Linked DNA regions of Homo sapiens: region 2 is linked to region 1. The links come from fine-mapping of genetic effects on gene expression. Tissue or cell type: cerebellum. Region 1 holds a variant in brackets; the other region holds the start of a gene. All regions are shown on one strand. Distances are between the middles of the regions.

What was found. PIP is the estimated chance that this variant, and not a neighbour inherited with it, causes the effect.
Region 2: it holds the start of MPP7, and the variant in region 1 is fine-mapped to the expression of MPP7 in cerebellum (GTEx, PIP 0.97).

Annotation. Positions count from the first base shown.
Region 1 is chr10:28,907,982-28,916,090 of GRCh38, forward strand. No RefSeq gene overlaps it. Among named protein-coding and RNA genes, the nearest start is that of C10orf126, 66 kb to the left of the region's middle. The variant G/A (reference allele first, on the strand shown) is at 4,366.
Region 2 is chr10:28,299,453-28,307,561 of GRCh38, forward strand. MPP7 (MAGUK p55 scaffold protein 7) reads right to left here and starts at 3,612. Exons shown (of 17, transcript NM_001318170.2): 1 at 3,409-3,612. It overlaps MPP7-DT (MPP7 divergent transcript), which reads left to right and starts at 3,717. Exons shown (of 2, transcript XR_930772.3): 1 at 3,717-4,977; 2 at 5,947-6,819. RefSeq lists a silencer at 3,159-3,798.

The sequences.
Region 1 (8,109 bases):
TTTAAGGCATATCTGCACTGTGGAGGTGAGACAGTGGGCTCAGGGCCTGGAAGACACTTAGAAAGCATAAGAACCATAACCTTCAGCTTCTCACGCTCCCTTCCTGTATGGCTGATATAGTTTGGCCCCGTGTCCCCACCCAAATCTCATCTAGAATTGTAATTCCCATAATCCCCATGTGTGGAGGGCGGGGTCTGGTAGGAGGTGATTGGATCATGGGGGTGGTTTTCCCCATGCTGTTCTTATGACAGGAGTGACTCTTCACGAGATCTGATGGTTTTATAAGCATATGGCATCTCCTCAGCTTGGACTTCTCTCTCCTGCTGCCATGTGAAGAAGGTCCTTGCTTTCCCTTCACCTTCCACCATGATTGTAAGTTTCCTGAGGCCTCCCCAGCCTTTTGGAACTGTGAGTCAATCAAACCTCTTTCCTTTATAAATTACACAGTCTCAGGTACTTCTTTATAGCAGTGCGAGAATGGACTAATACGATGGCTTTCTTATTGAATTGAAGCTCAAAACTAATATTTCAGGAGCCACATTTTGATCTATAAACCTGTATTATTCTTATTTCTAAAAAATTTTTTAGACAGACTTTCATTCTGTCACCCAGTGGGGCAATCATATTGGGGTATCATAGCTCATTGCAGCCTCAACCTCCTGGGCTCAACTGTTCCTCCAGCCTTAGCCTCTAGAGTAGATAAGACTACAAGTGTGTGCCACCATGCCCAGCTAAGTTTAAAACGTTTTGCAGAGACGAGGTCTTGATATGTTGCCCAGGCTGGTCTGGAACACCTTGACACAAGTGATCCTCTCAGTTCAGCCTCCTAAAGTGCCAGGATTACAGGTGTGAGCTGCCGTGCACTGGCCAAACTCTGTATTTTTGAAGAAAAGAGATACACGATTCAGTCATTAGAACAAATGTATCCAAATGTACAAGTGAATTAATTTTGCCTAGACTGATAACTATAGTCCTATGTACTTTTATGGGATTTAGGAATCAGGATAATTAGTTCAATAACCAACAAAACTCAAGTCGCTGGAAACCAGAAGACACTCATGCATATTTCTCTATTATACAATTAAAATTTGCAACTTGGTGAAGGGTCCATTGGAAATACATCCTTTTAAAACCAGTGGCATGTCTGTCATTCCCAGAATGCAGTAGGACCAGGTGACTGGGCCCTCTCTGCTTTGGGGAATCTGGATGTGATGCCAGCACCAGGGATCCAGGTCATCGGGGCACATACCCTTAGCTTCTGAGGAGTCTGAGCCCTGGAAGCTATAGGTCTGGGACCTAAACCAGATTCCTGACTCTCTGGAGAGTGCCCCCAAATCAATTAGAGTTGATATGTGGATGCCATTTTTCTTTGTCCCCTGCAGATTCATGACTTCAATTGAGAGATGAGTTTCAAGCCACCTTTCAAGGAATCCTGGGTAGAATGAAATCTGTTCCATGGAATCTTAAGAAGAAGAAGAAAAAAAATCAAGATCCCTGTGGTAGGTATCAGTCATTGGTTTCTAGTTACTCAACCCTTTTACAAGTCTTAAGGACCCTATAAACTTTGAAAGTTGTAGTAAAATATTTATAGAGCAAGTCAAAGAAAAGTATAAAACAGTGGGTCTAGGTGAAATTTAGACGTGGCTAAAGTTCCTTTTCACCTCTTTTGCTGTTTGATTCATAAGGGTATAGGTACCTGGCCTAGTGAAATAGCAACTCATTTCACCCTGTAGACCGGACATAGTACAATTTCCACAGTTGCAAAGCCATTTCATTCCTTTTCCTCCTGGTGTTTACTTTAGAAGTTCAAGAGACGATTTTGATGAGAAATGACAGTCCGGTGCCTCATGAGAAACTCAGGCCGGTGCCACAGGTGAAAACTCTGAGGTCATTACCCCTTCTGAATTTTCCTGGGAAAGGGCCTTGGAGCCACTCTCCACTGTGACTGAGAAACTCAAGAGGAGCCATTGGTGTTTCAGGCTTTTAGGGGAGATATAAATGGAGGCCTGACTAGTAAAACCTGCCACCCAAAGCCCCAAGGCACTCTTTACTCAGGCAGTCATAGAGCTGGGATGGAACGCCATCTGGAGGAACCCCACTTTGCCTGTGTGCCTCCACGTCCCCAGCCCATCCTTGGGGTTCTTCCCTTCCTCACCAGGATGCAGGGCTGTAATAGCAGGGTGCTGTTCAGCAGCTGCTGCAATATCACTACACGGTAAGGGCTGGCCTTAAGCAACATGCTCTGGGGTTCATAAACATACATGGGGCAGGAAAACGTGATCGCATATAAATGTGTGCAATGTTATTCCGGGAAAAACATGTGAATGTTTTGGAAGTCATAAGGGATTTCCTAAATAACGATGGTGTATGGAATCCAAGAGGTTTTTGCTCAAAGAAAGCCCAAGATCATAACTGAAAGTGTGTTAGGAAGCAAAAAAAGGTCAAAAACCACGGGCAAAATTAATGTCTTGTTGGGTCCTGCTACAATAACTCTGGGGGTGAAATGAAGTTCATGCTCCTTTATTCTGAAGCATGATTATAAAGCAATGGAGTAACGGCTTCAACAAATATATCTGAATGAATATATCTAAATAAATGCTGTGGCCTTCAAGATGGCCATGGCGAAAACTCTAATTATTATGACATATGTTTCTTAAGCCTTTTCTGAGACCCTTCCCAACCCTTCTTCTCCTCCTGTGCACCGCTCTTCTGAGATGCTTGAGGTTTCATACATACTACTATTGTAAATATTTCCATTTAACATTGAAATTAGTTGTTTTCGGGGTTTGTGCCCCATCAAGGATTGGTACAGAGTAAAAATGTATTGCGTTAAAAAATTTTTAAAGTGTGTTTAGTGAATGGCCTTCACAGATAATTTATGACTCGCACAGGAAAACTTGCCTAATGTTTTAGGGCCACATTTTGTATACCAAAGCAGTGTCACCCAATTTGGTCACCTACATTCACCAGCTCCATTTTAAAATAATTTTTGGTTTATTTTAAGAATCAAATACACCTTCTTCTTGGTATAAAGGTTTATAACCATTGAGACTATTCTAAAGGAATGTGCTCTTGGCTCTGGAGGCAATTCCAAAGGAGGAATTTCCAAAATATTTTGAGCTATGACTGCATCATTGTGTAGTGATGCCCAGTGGAAAAATATTTTTTAAAGCAGTAGAACTGTTCCTTAAAAGTTACTCATAGTTACGAGAGGCTGAGCAACCAATTCACGATTGTGACTTCCTTTGTTTTGGGAAAAGTTAGCAGAATAAACACTTCAGTTTGTCCAAGAACAATAATTTGTGTAATGAGCGTCATCCTCAATGTTACTTTAAATGTAGGCTGAGAAGTAATGTGTTCTGTTTAACATAAATAGAGTCCATTTTTAGTGGGACATTGTCCTTGCTGCATCTTTGAATATGGATTTAGATTTTAGTGACTGTCTCTGAAACTGTCTTGGGAAGGTGTGTGTGTGTGTGTGTGTGTGCATGCACATGTGTGTACATATCTGTTTGTATGTATAAATGCATGTATATTTTGTCTATTTGTCTGATTATATTTGTTTTAGGACAGTGCAAACCCTGAGCTAACCCAGAAAGTATCTCGACCCTCTCTTTACTCCACACTGGATGAAAGACTGGGAAAGGAAATTGAATCAGGTTTGCCCGGGCACAGTGGCTCATGCCTGTAATCCCAGCACTTTAGGAGGCCGCGAAAGGCGGATCACTTGAGGTCAGAAGTTCAAGTCCAGACAGGCCAATATGGCAAAACCCCGTCTCTACTAAAAATACAAAAACAATCAGCTGGGCATTGTGGTGGGGGCCTGTAGTCCCAGCTACTTGGGAGACTGAGGCAGGAGAATCGCTTGAACCCAGGAGGCGGAGGTTGCAGTGAGCTGAGATCATGCCATTGCACTCCAGCCTGGGCAACAAGAGTGAAACTCTGTCTCAAAAAATAAAATAAAATAAAATAAAATAAAATAAAATAAAATAAAATAAAATAAAATAAAAAGAAATGGAATCAGGTTTGACCCTGGCTATCTGGGCGACAGCACCAGGCGTGGTGTTATGAAGACCAGCAGATGGAAATGAATCACTGGTGATTGGGGCTGGTGTTTGGGGCCAAGGAGGCTGCATTGCAGCTGGTGGGTGGTTGAAGGGTCCCCCTTTTAGGAAGGAGAAGCTCCCAGTCATCTTGGGATGGGAATGAGCAAGGCTGCCACTTAGTTCTGGGACTGAGAGGCTCCAGCTGGATTCGGAGGTGGGAAAGAGACCTGGAGCCTGGTGGAGAGGAGGCTGACTTGGCTTAGCCAGGCAAAAGGTAGCCAGGAGCTAGGCCAAAGGCCCAAGGCTGGCGTTCAGAGCC[G/A]GGACCCTCTAGAGGAACCCCTTTTGATAAGCATGGGAATGTTTCTCGGAGTTGTAATTGTGTCAGCCCCATGCCTTCAGTACAGTTTTATTAAACAGTTGGGCTGCTCCTCTCTGTGCATTGTGGAAGTACAGGCAGAGCTTGTGTCTGCACTTGGAGTGTCTTGCATGGGGATGGCCGAGCAGCCTGAGGAAGCCAGTGTTGAGCCTGTTCAAGGGAATTTCCTTGCAGGGCTTTGCAGCACCGGCCTTGGAGTCAGGGTGGCTGGAGGGATGAGTGACTACTGGGATGGGTGGGCGGCACATCCAGCATCTCTCCAGAATTCTCCAACATGTTCATGAAGGAGAAGCAGGGAGAAGAATAACTTTCTTGAGTTATGGAATTGGGCCTCAAAGTCATGATTATTTGGATAATAAGAAAACACAGGCTGGGTACAGTAGCTCACAGCTGTAATCCCAGCACTTTGGGAGGCTGAGGCAGGAGGATTGCTTGAGCCCAGGAGTTTGAGACCAGCCTGGGCCACATGGTAAGACTCAGTTTTTACATAAAAAATTGTTTTTAAAATGAACCAGGAGTGGTGGCTCGCATGTAGTCACAGCTACACGTGAGGCTGAAAAAAGGAGGATTGCTTGAGCCCAGGAGTTCAAGGCTGCAGTGCAGTGAGCTATGATTATACCACTGCACACCAGCCGGGCAATAGAGCAAGACCCTGTCTCAAAAAAACAAAACAACTCCTCTCCCCACCTCGAAGCCCCACGATCTTTTTGGTAATTACAGGTGAGTGAGGTCTGGGGACTTACTAGTTCTAACTGGGATAAGTGCAAAGCATTACTATGTCTATAAGATACCTTCCATTTTTTAAAAAGCAAACTTAAAAGTTGAAACAATTCCATATTTTACATGTCTTTAGAGGTTCTCATTATGTACGTAGGTGAAATAATCACAATGTAACTGAAATGTTTAGTTTTCAGCCAGTGGTTTGATTTTCTCTGCTATAATCCCTCTTACTCTGACCTTGATATTCCTCACTCCCCAACAGCTAATCCATTGGTGAGTTAAAGATTTCTCAAATCTGCCAGTATGGTGGCTTACACCTGTAATCCCAGCACTTTGGGAGGCCGAGGTGGGAGGATTGCTTGAGCCCAGGAGTGCGAGACTGACCCAGGCAACAGAGTGAGACCCTTTCTCTACAAAAAGTAGAAAAATTAGCCAGGCGTGGTAATGCACGCCTGTGGTTCCAGCTACTTGGGAAGCTGAGATGGGATCACTTGAGCCCAGGAGGTCAGGGCTGTAGTGAGCTATGATTACACCACAACACTCCAGCCTGAGTGACATTGCAAGACCCTGTCTTCGATAAATAAATACATACATAAATAAATAAAAATAATGCAAACACATTTTTAATTTACAAGACACTCTTTGAGAAAACTATATTCTGGGAAGGGATTATGAAGCTGGATCTGGAATCGTGCCTGGTTCCCGTCCTCTGGCTCATTCATGAAGTGTTGGATGAAGCACTTTGCTGAGCCTAAAGAGTCCTGCTGTGTGGGATGAGGTGGGTGGAGGGACTTGTTAATGCTCATGTCCCATCCAGGGCCCCCTTATGCTCTTCTGATCCAATTCCCAGGAACATCAACTCCATAAAAACATTCCTCTCCCTCGAGCCGCCCATTAACCTTTCTGAGTTGGCTAATGATTAATGTCATTAGCTTCGGAATGCGATGGCAACTCCCCAAGAGGGTATGGCACCCACAGTGTTGTGGGTTGTAAGAACTGTGCAAACCAAGCGAGCTGTCCTCAGTCTGGGTGTGGAGATAATGGTTTTACCCCCTCCAACAGTGACTTTTATTGCAGTCATAATTACTCATCTGTTCAGTTAGCACCTGCCCTACCAGTGGGGAGAGAGAACCCAAATAATAATGTCAAGTTTACCCAACCTAACCAATGCAGACATCACCAATGATGTGATGACCTTGTGTTTGGAAAGCGAAGGTCTCCTTGGGCAGGGGAGCAGCCCAACCACATTTTCTCAGGAACTGCTCTGATTTCCTTTATCCTTGGCCTGGCTCTAGCAGGTTAAACCTTTATGAGATTGTCATTCCCATAGGTCAAAAATGACCAAATATAAGGAATTTCATAGGGTTCAACCCAATATAGTTTGTTCTTGATTTTTCTAGAGTAGTGATAAAAGACACGGGTAGAAAGTAATAAGCAAAGAGAATAACTTGTCAAGTAAGAAAACTCTAACAAAGTTAGGGGTAGTATATTTTAAAAGCTTACTTGCCCTGGAGAAGACTATGCGTATTATACACTCTTGCATTAATATTATATGCATGTGGATTTTGAAATATTTCAACTCCTTGGGTGAGACATTTAAGGTAATGAGTTCCTGAAGTTTCATGTCACTACAGTGCCTGAAAATCGTTTTCATGGAATTTTCATTAATTTCTAATAGATGAGAAGGTTGTATTTACAAAATGAGTGATTGTTGCCTTAGAGATCAGGCAGGACATTGCCAGTAATGAGGGCAGACTGCAGTCAGGAAGTCTTGTTTGAATTAATAGTAAGTGAACTTCAAGACAGCAGAAGTCACTGCTTGTCCCAGATGTCTAATGATGAGTAAGTGAAACAGGAAAGCAAGGAGAACTAGCGCTGCTTGCCTACTGTGTGGCAGCTCTTCACATCCTCTTTCCTTTCATCTGCATACAACTCCACAGGGACAGGGATTATTGTCACCATTTCACAGATGCTCCGAGCAGTATTAAATCAACTGTCAAAGTCCATATCACTAGACATTGGCAGAGCCAGCATTTATGGCCAGCTCAGTTGTATTCAAAGCCTCATCATTTGCTTATGCCAAGAAAGACTGGATGACTTGGTACCAAAGGTGGTCCATGTTTATGGCTTTGGGCCTGGCATCTTCAGAAGTGTCTTAGTTTGGGATTGTGCATGCTGGTGCCATTTTCCTGATTCACAGGTCTCCTCAGCAAGCACTGGAGAAGGCATCCTCAAGTATAAAGCATTGGGACTTTGGGTTGCATTAAAATTTGCCTCCAGTTACTCCCAGCAGAGCTTGGAACGCAGTAGTCAATAAAGCAAATATATATATATTTTTTGAATTTTATTATAAGAGATACATAGTGTATATATATATATTTTAATTTTACTATAAGAGATAAGGTCTTTGTCTGTCACCCACGCTGGAGTGCAGTGGTGCAATTATAGCTCACTGCAGCCCTGACTTCCTGGGCTCAGGTGATCCTCCTGCCTCAGCCTCCTGAGTAGCTGGGCCTGTAAATGCTAAAAACCAGCTGCCAGCACGTTCAGCTAATTTTTCTACTTTTTGTAGAGATGGAGTCTTGCTATGTTGCTCAGGCTAGTCTTGAACTGAGCTCAACCAATCCTCCTACCTCAGCTTTCCCAAATGCTGGAATTACAGGCATCAGCCACCATACCCAGCCTTGCATATTGTTTTGGTGGCATCTCAGATGACCTTGTTAGCTGGATTTTCTTGTCAGAAATCGAGGATAAAAAGGATTTCCAAGTCACTTTTATACAGGATGAAATGGAGCTTTGGTCGAAACCTTAAGCCACCAAACTCTTTTTGGGTTGGGTGAGAGCTGTAGGTTGAGGAGCCATTATATCAAATAACAATTATGACTGGCACTTGAAACGGTGGGGGTGGGAGAGAGGGAATAAATAGTTTGGATGCTGGCTTGGACTGCTGGGCTAATTCTGAGTGCT
Region 2 (8,109 bases), 610 kb before region 1:
TCATGGAGCCCCAAAACAATTAGAATCGTAACATCAAAGATCACTGACCAGAGATCACCATAACAGACAGAATAACAATGAAAAGTTTGCAATATTGTGAGAATTACCAAAATATGACAGAGACACACAAAATGAACATACACTATTGGAAAAATAGCACCAATCGACTTGCAGGGTTGCCAACGAACCTTCAGTTTGTAAAAAACACAGTATCTTCAGAGAGCAAGCCTGACTAACAATTTCCTTCACTTTAAATTCAAAATGAAGGAATACCCTTTCCTTCCGAATGTATCTCATTTAACAAAATTCAAGACTTTTTTTTTTTTTTTTTGAGACGGAGTCTCGCTCTGTGGCCCAGGCTGGAGTGCAGTGGCACGATCTCAGCTTACTGCAAGCTCTGCCTCTTGGGTTCAGGCCAATTCTCCTGCCTCAGCCTCCCGAGTAGCTGGGATTACAGGCGCCCACCACCACGCCCGGCTAATTTTTTCTATTTTTTAGTAGAGACAGGGTTTCACCGTGTTAGCCAGGATGGTCTCAATCTCCTGACCTTGTGATCCGCCCGCCTCGGCCTCCCAAAGTGCTGGGATTACAGGCGTGAGCCACCATGCCTGGCCAAAACTCAAGACTTAAGTCATTCATTACAATTTTGTCTGAATTGCAATTAGGAGAGAAACAGCTGCAGTACCTTTGTATCTTTGTCAGTGAAATGTTTATAACAAGGAAAAACAAAAATCTGTTTGAAATCTCCAGTAAGCGCCCCCCAGTGCACCATCTAGTGGAAGTCAGGTAGTGTCATAATTAATTTAAAGAAAAAAGTCACAGAAACTCTGAAAACCATTGGGGGAGGGGGAGAAGTCAAAGCTTCAGGTAAGAATACAAGCAAATACTTTACAAACAGCCAAAATATCTTTCCAGTGTCCCACAATGCAAGAGGGCTGGGCTTATGAGAATAAATGATTCATTTTCTGTATAATCAACAGATGATAAAAGTTCCTTTATGGAAATTTTTGCTTGGGTGCTAGAAATTTTGACAGGAGAGTAAAAGTTAAATAAAGCCACTAAAACATAAATAAGTAAATAAATGCTGGGCTAGAGTGACAGCCTTGTGTAAGAAGAGTTGCCTTATATGTTACATGAATATGTTAAAATGTACATGTGAAACAGAGGTATTAGCCACAAAACAAGAGATAACTTCATGATTAGAACAGTTACATTCAGGCTGGGTGCAATGGCTCACGCCTGTAATCCCAGCACTTTGGGAGGCCAAGGCAGGCAGATCACTTGAGGTCAGGAGTTCGAGACCAGCCTGGCCAACATAGTGAAACCCCATCTCTACAAAAATATTAAAAAAAAAAAAATAGCTGGGCGTGGTGGCATGCGCCTGTAGTCCCAGCTACTCAAGAGGCTGAGGCAGGAGAATCACTTGAACCAGGGAGGCAGAGATCACAGTGAGCCACAGCACTCCAGCCTGGACAACAGAGTGAGACTCCACCTCAGAAAAAAAAAAAAAAAGAGTTCCATTCAGTAATCCATAAGACATTTTCATGTTCCTGATAACTAGTAAATTTAACAAAACCTAACGATTCTCTAGAATTCCCTAAGCCTTAACATCATACAAGCGGCTACTCCCAACTACCCATTTCAGCCTGTCCCACACTAATGCCCAAACTCCTTTGGTCAAGTTATTCTAATTAAGAAATTATTCTTCAATCCGTCTATAAATTTACAGTAAACACTTCCCGAAACAAAGTCATAAGTCATGATCAAAATGCATTACACTTCATTAGTATTTTCCTTCTGCATATCAATTATTTCTATTCAATTCAAAAAAAGGTACCGAAATTCAATGCTGAGCTAGAGATGCAAACACAAATAAGGTTCTCTAATTTGGAAAGCTTCCCAAAATTTAAAATAGAGATTTTCACACAGCATTCCTAACTTTTGTTTGTTTTGCCTGTGTGGAAAATTACCTTTCACCTGAAATTCAAACTAGCTAAGCAACCTGAATGGAAAGAAAAACCTCGCAGATAATATTTCTTTACTTGAAAATAACCATCTCCACCTCTGACCTGTGTATACGGGATCAAATTGGTATGCAGAAGTTGGCTTGATGGCGGGAATCTTACCCAGATTTTGGATTAAATCCATTATAGGTATAAAATAAAGTAGGAGTAAAGTGGGGCAGGATTCCTTTCATTTCTAGGGCTTTCAGTTGACATACCTGTAAAATGGACATGCTATGCACAGCCTGCCTCAGAAGAGTAGGAGGATGGCATACTATATAATTGATAGAGTGCTATGAGCTTCACGATTAAATGGAAATACTGTTTTTATAGAACCAGAGTGAACCTGAGCATAGAAAACTCTCCAAGGGCCATCGCTGTGACATTACCGCTAAAACTCAGTGACCTTCATCAATTCACTTGTAAACAAGCAATATATTGAGCAAGTCAAAGGAAAGGCAGCAACAATTCAAGATACTTCTTTATAAGTAAATCAAATTACGTAATTAATAGCCCAGGATTTACCTGCAAACTATTACTGCCTGACTAGCAGGTGCATCCCCAAAGCCTCGAGTACAGAGACTGTTTTTAGAGAGCCCCCCCTTTTTTAAATGTGAATATTGCTTTTAAAAATTAGAAAAAGAAAAAAATCACAATTCTACTCCCACCCATGGCACAGTGACAGAAACAAGGTCCCACCCCCACAATCCTTTCAAACCTGCACAGGCATTCCTCACGAACACTCCTCCCCCTCATTCCTACCTCACCGCTCCCCACTTCAGCCCAGACAAAGCTGAGTTACTCGGCTGGGTCTACCTGTCACTTAAGAAAAAGCCCCCAAATAGATTCACGCTAAATGCTGCTTTTAATTTTTTAAATAGCAAATAAGTAAATAAATAATGCTATCGTGTAGATTACACGGCCAAACGCCTGTTCTCAGAAAACATGTAATTAACACGACCCAAGTGAAGACGCCTTTCTGGCTTAGGGAAAGAAAAAAAAGAAGCCAGCCAGCTTATCGCTCCCTTTCAGTCGGTTCTTTTCCCCGGGGAGCCGGACTCTGACTCAACTCCGCAGTTTTTCCTCCACCTGTCGGTTCTCCCCGCTCTGGGTCTGCCCCGCCGCCGCCCCCGCCCGGAGTCCCGCGCGTCAACAGGGGTCTCCAGGGGTCCTCAGGGTCCCGCCCGAGGCGGCCCCGCCCCTGCCCCGGCCCCGCCCCCACCTCCTCACAAGGTGCCCGCCGCGGGCTCCCAGGCTGAGGCGCCTAGAGGCCGGCAGGAGGCTCCGGAGGACCGCGGCACCGCTCGGCCCGGTCGCCGGCGCAGGGAGCAGCTTCGGGGGCCGACCCCACCGCCCGAGCCTAGCCCTGGGCTCCGACAGGCGCTCCCCAGAGGCGCCCCATTACCTGCTCTGGGCTGCCGCGGTCCGCGGGCAGGAGGCGCACTCGCTCTGGCCCCTGCAGCCCCGGGCCCGGAGGCAAGGAGGCAGCGACCGCCACCGCCGCAGAGGACAATCGGGAGCCAGCGGGCTCGGCACCGCCGCGGCGGGCGCAGAACGCACGAGCCCAGTGGGAGCCCGGCCCCCGCCTCCAGCCCGGCTAGTAACCAACACGGCCCCCACCCTCGGAGGGGCGGGACCGCGGTTGGAGGGGCGGGGCGGGGCTGCACCGCCCGCGGGTAAGAGGGGCCTGCTGATAGGCTGCGAAGGCGATAGGCGTCTCAGACTTGAAGACGCCTCTCCAGCAGAACTCCCTCATTGGTCGGCAAGAGAAAACAAAGCTGGGCTCTGATTGGTGACAGCTCTGTAGCTCCTCCTCATACCCGCAGTCCCCGCAAGTTCCACCCCTGCCCGCCCGGTTCGCTCGCCCTTGGTTCCCACTCCCAGGTGGCTGCAGACTGGAGTGTGTTTCATGGACGAGCAACCTCCCTGAGGAGAACCCCGGATACGCAGGTTCATTCGCCAGATGCGAGTTTTCTTAAGCCGCTGCGATTCTCTGATTTCAGTATGAACTTGGTGAATAACGTAATCTTTAACTTCCTTTGGATTCAGACAAGTCTCCTAGGTTTAAAAATGCTGCATAAGATTGAGAGGGATATTGTTATGCACGAAAAAAGACATAAGGTGTTTTCACCTTTGGCGACACTGTAGGTGACTTTTTCTTATTACCTTTTTGTGTTCCATATTGAACATGTACTACATGATTAGAAAAAAAAATTCTTAAATAGAAAAATGAGTAGGGTGCGGAGAATGGTAAAGACAAACTTTAAGGAAATCCAGAGAACTGATTCTTTCACAATAGAAGAAAATACAGTAAACATGCTTAATATCTGAGGGCTACCCCGAAAAAACATGAACTGGTATCAGCGCCCTTCAGCTCTCTTAAAGAACTTTACATATGTGACCGAGGTGCCCCCATACTCCTTCCTATCATGTAACCAACACATAATGTGGACAGCACTACACTGCAAACAGAATTACAGGAAGACTCTTATAGGAAGAATTAGAATCCAAAGTACACAATCAATAAAGCTTTAGAAAAAGGGGTAGTAAAAAGCAGAAGACAAAAAAAAATCAGGTAATATAAATTGGAAAGCTCAGCTGATGGAGGGAATCATCAGAAAAAAAATAATGTGACAACACTTCAAGATGTGATAGAGACTTTGAATGGAAAGCTGAAGGGAGAGGAAGGGGATTGAGATAAGGATCAATGACCTGCAGTTAATATGAGCTCTCAGAACACATCCCCCAGAACTGGTGTCAGCCTAGAAGGCAAGAAGCATTTCTCACCTAGGGACCACTCTCACTTAACTCTCTCTAGCTGCCTTAACATTCTGTTTGTTCTTGTCATTCTCGCAAAGTTCTAAAACAGGCTATTTGAAATTAAGCACTTCCCCCCAGCAACTCCGTGAATTACGTAATAGTGAAAAATGGAGATAGACAAAAAGCAAACCTGAGGAAGGAAAGGAATGTTAAGGTAAACATAAACTTAAAGAGAAGTAAGGGCAAAACACCTGATAGAAAGAAGACAAGAAATTCTTTTTTCTCTCTTACTTCCTGAGAATAAAGTAAAGGTCTTTGGAGGACAGAATAACCTTATTGCCTAACAAAAAGAGTTTTTACCAAACCTTTCTAATAATAACTGTAATTCTAAACTGTAGTCTAAAAATACGTGTCCTAAAGTAAGTACTTTGAGCAAATAGTTTTGAGATCTAATATTTTTACATTGTGTAAGGAAAAGAAGAGGAACTTAGCCTAGTATGAACAAACTGTAGGGAATACCCTTCAAAAGTTTCTTCTACAATAACACCTGAAATTCCATCACTAACATTCTTTCACTGGGATTAAATAATGTATGTCTAAGATTATTCTTTTATTCATTTACTCATCAAACGTAATCAATATTAATCATCAAATACTAGATACTGCAATGAACGAGGCTTTCTACTAAGCACTCAGAGTATAGCCTTGAACAAGACAGACTTGCAGCTGTTTTTATCAGAAGATGGACAATGATCCAATAAAAAGATAAACTTCCAGACCGGGATCAGGGCAAAGAAGAAAACAGTGACCAGAGGGATGGGAGACACACTTAATTTTGGGAAAGGAGAAAAATGCTTTAAGGAGAAATGATCTAAGAGAAATGCTCTAAGATTTGAGGCACCACCTAAATAAGAAAACACCAACTTAGCAAAACTCCAGGGCAGATAAAATAGCAAGAACAAAGGACTTGAAGTAGGAAGAAAAGTGATGTATAGCAGGAACAGAGAGAAAGCCAGCATGGGTATCATGGTGCATAAGGAGAGTGCTACTAGACAGGTTGGAGAAGGAGGTGAGGACCTCGTAGGCAATGGTAACTTTGTATTTTGTTACAAGGATTCCTGACGGGCAACATCGAGTTGCTGATAGTGGAGTAAAATCATTATTTTTTTTTTTCCTTTTTCAGAGTCACCAGTAAAATGAGCATTCATTCATTAAGCCAATCATCAGGAATGGATCTAGGAAGAACCTACTGTTTACTAGAAATAGGTTAGATCTGTGGATATAACAATGAATAAGACAAGACTGGTGGATCTATAGAGAAACTATTACTGCACAGGTGATGGGGAAATCAAGAGTACTATGGGGCCAAGGAGACTGTCCTGCAGCAAATGAGGAATAAGCTGAAACATCAGTAGGAGCCATCCCAGAGAAAAGGGACAGGGTTCTAGATCCAGAGAACAACAGAAGAGCATTCAGCGCCTGCAAGGGAGCAGGGGATCTAATGCAAAGCCATTGCATAACCAGTCAACTTTCCCCACATCACAAGATTGCCTAGCCTGGATGGCCCCAGAATGTTGAAACAAATGTCTAATTAGTAACGACATTCTGAATGCTTGGGAGCTGAGCAAAATATGAGGAGAAGCAACCTGATTTTTGTTTCATATTATCATCTCCTTTATTCCAGCAACAAAAGACACTGAAAATAGTAAATGCCCACTTTCAACCATGACAGCCCTTTTAGGATAGTAACGGTGAGCAGTATTAATCCTATTTGACCAGAACTAGGGCAGAATTGAAGCCCCTGGAGTAGAGATCTGTTCTATTAGCCCCAGCCTTTCCGCCTGCTTCTTGGGATGGCTATCTTTACTTTATCAGTTGAGCCTCCAGCATTAGCAGATACCTATAAGGGAAGAGATCCAGCCCTCACTATGGAGGGCCAGAAAGAGAAAGCACCAGACATTAGGAAATGTCAAAGTATCTCAGTACATCCAGCTGATTAGTGACAGATAAGTCAAAATTTGCAGCAACTAAATAAATCAAAAAGTAGATTTTAAAATGTGATCTTTGAAATATTTGGCACAATGCTTCAAAGCCACTGAAAAGCTATCTCTTCACCCTAATAGAGGACAGAAATTCATTAGATAGACAGAAGAGGCTGCATACAGTAGCCCATGCCCATAATCTCAACAACTTTGGAGGCCAAGGTGGAAAGATTACTTGAGGCCAGGAAATCAACACCAGCCTGAGCAACATAGCAAGACATCTTTACAAAAAATTTAAAAATTAGCCAGGTTTGGTGGTGTGCAGCTGTAGTCCTAGCTACTCGGGAGGCTGAGGTGGGAGGATTGCTTGAGGCCAGGAGTTCTAGGCTGCAGTGAACAGAGATTTTGCCACTGCGTTCCAGCCTGGGCAACAGAGTAAGACCCTGTCTCTAAAATAGATGATAGATAGATAGAGAGAGAGAGAGAGATGATAGATAATAGATAGTTGATAGATAGATGATAGATAATAGATAGTTGATAGATAGATAATAGATCGTTGATTGATAGATTAGATAGATGTATAATAGAACCCAAAGGCAAAAATAAGTTAGTCCTCAGGAAGACCCAGATCGCAGACCTGAAAAGCCAGGAGGAACTCAATGGAATTTTTTTCCATAGCAGGTGCTCTCTCTACACCTGTGCTCTATTCTCCTATTCTGATAACCAGCCCCTGGCTCCTATGTCCCAGTGTCAGAGAAATGATGTTCCAGAGCTGCACCCACAAGGACTAAATCACCTGCCTAACCCTAACCCTAATCATAGATGATGGGGGCTGCAGGGGACCAGTATGGCTGCCAGGGCCCATCCCTGTTTATGAGCAGAGGTTTCCCAGAGAAGACACACTGGGCAGATTACCAGACACGCATTCATTGCACCCCTGACATTTTCAATCGCCAGTCAATGAGGCTTCCTTTCTAGTTACTGAAAGTCTTCACCTGCTGTTTATAGTAAACTGGAGACCTAGAGGCCAAGGCCGAAGGCTTGGATGGTAATTTCCCACATTCTCTGGAAATCTTTCTACTTCAGTTGGCTTCCAGACACCCAGTACCCTTGTGTGTTCCAGTTTCAAGTTGCCATTCTTGTTCAGGTCTTCTAGTAATTTCCTGTTTCCCTATCTGAAGTGTACCTCCTGACATCAATGTATTCAAAGAGCAAATGCTCCTGCCAAATCTATGAGTGTCAGTGAACTAGCCTGCTGCTCTGGGCTCAGATGAGACCAGCTTGCAGAACAAGCAGGACAGAGGCGTGAAGGGAAGCAGATGGCAAACCTCGATCTGCCACCATCCCTTCCACAGGCATTCCGT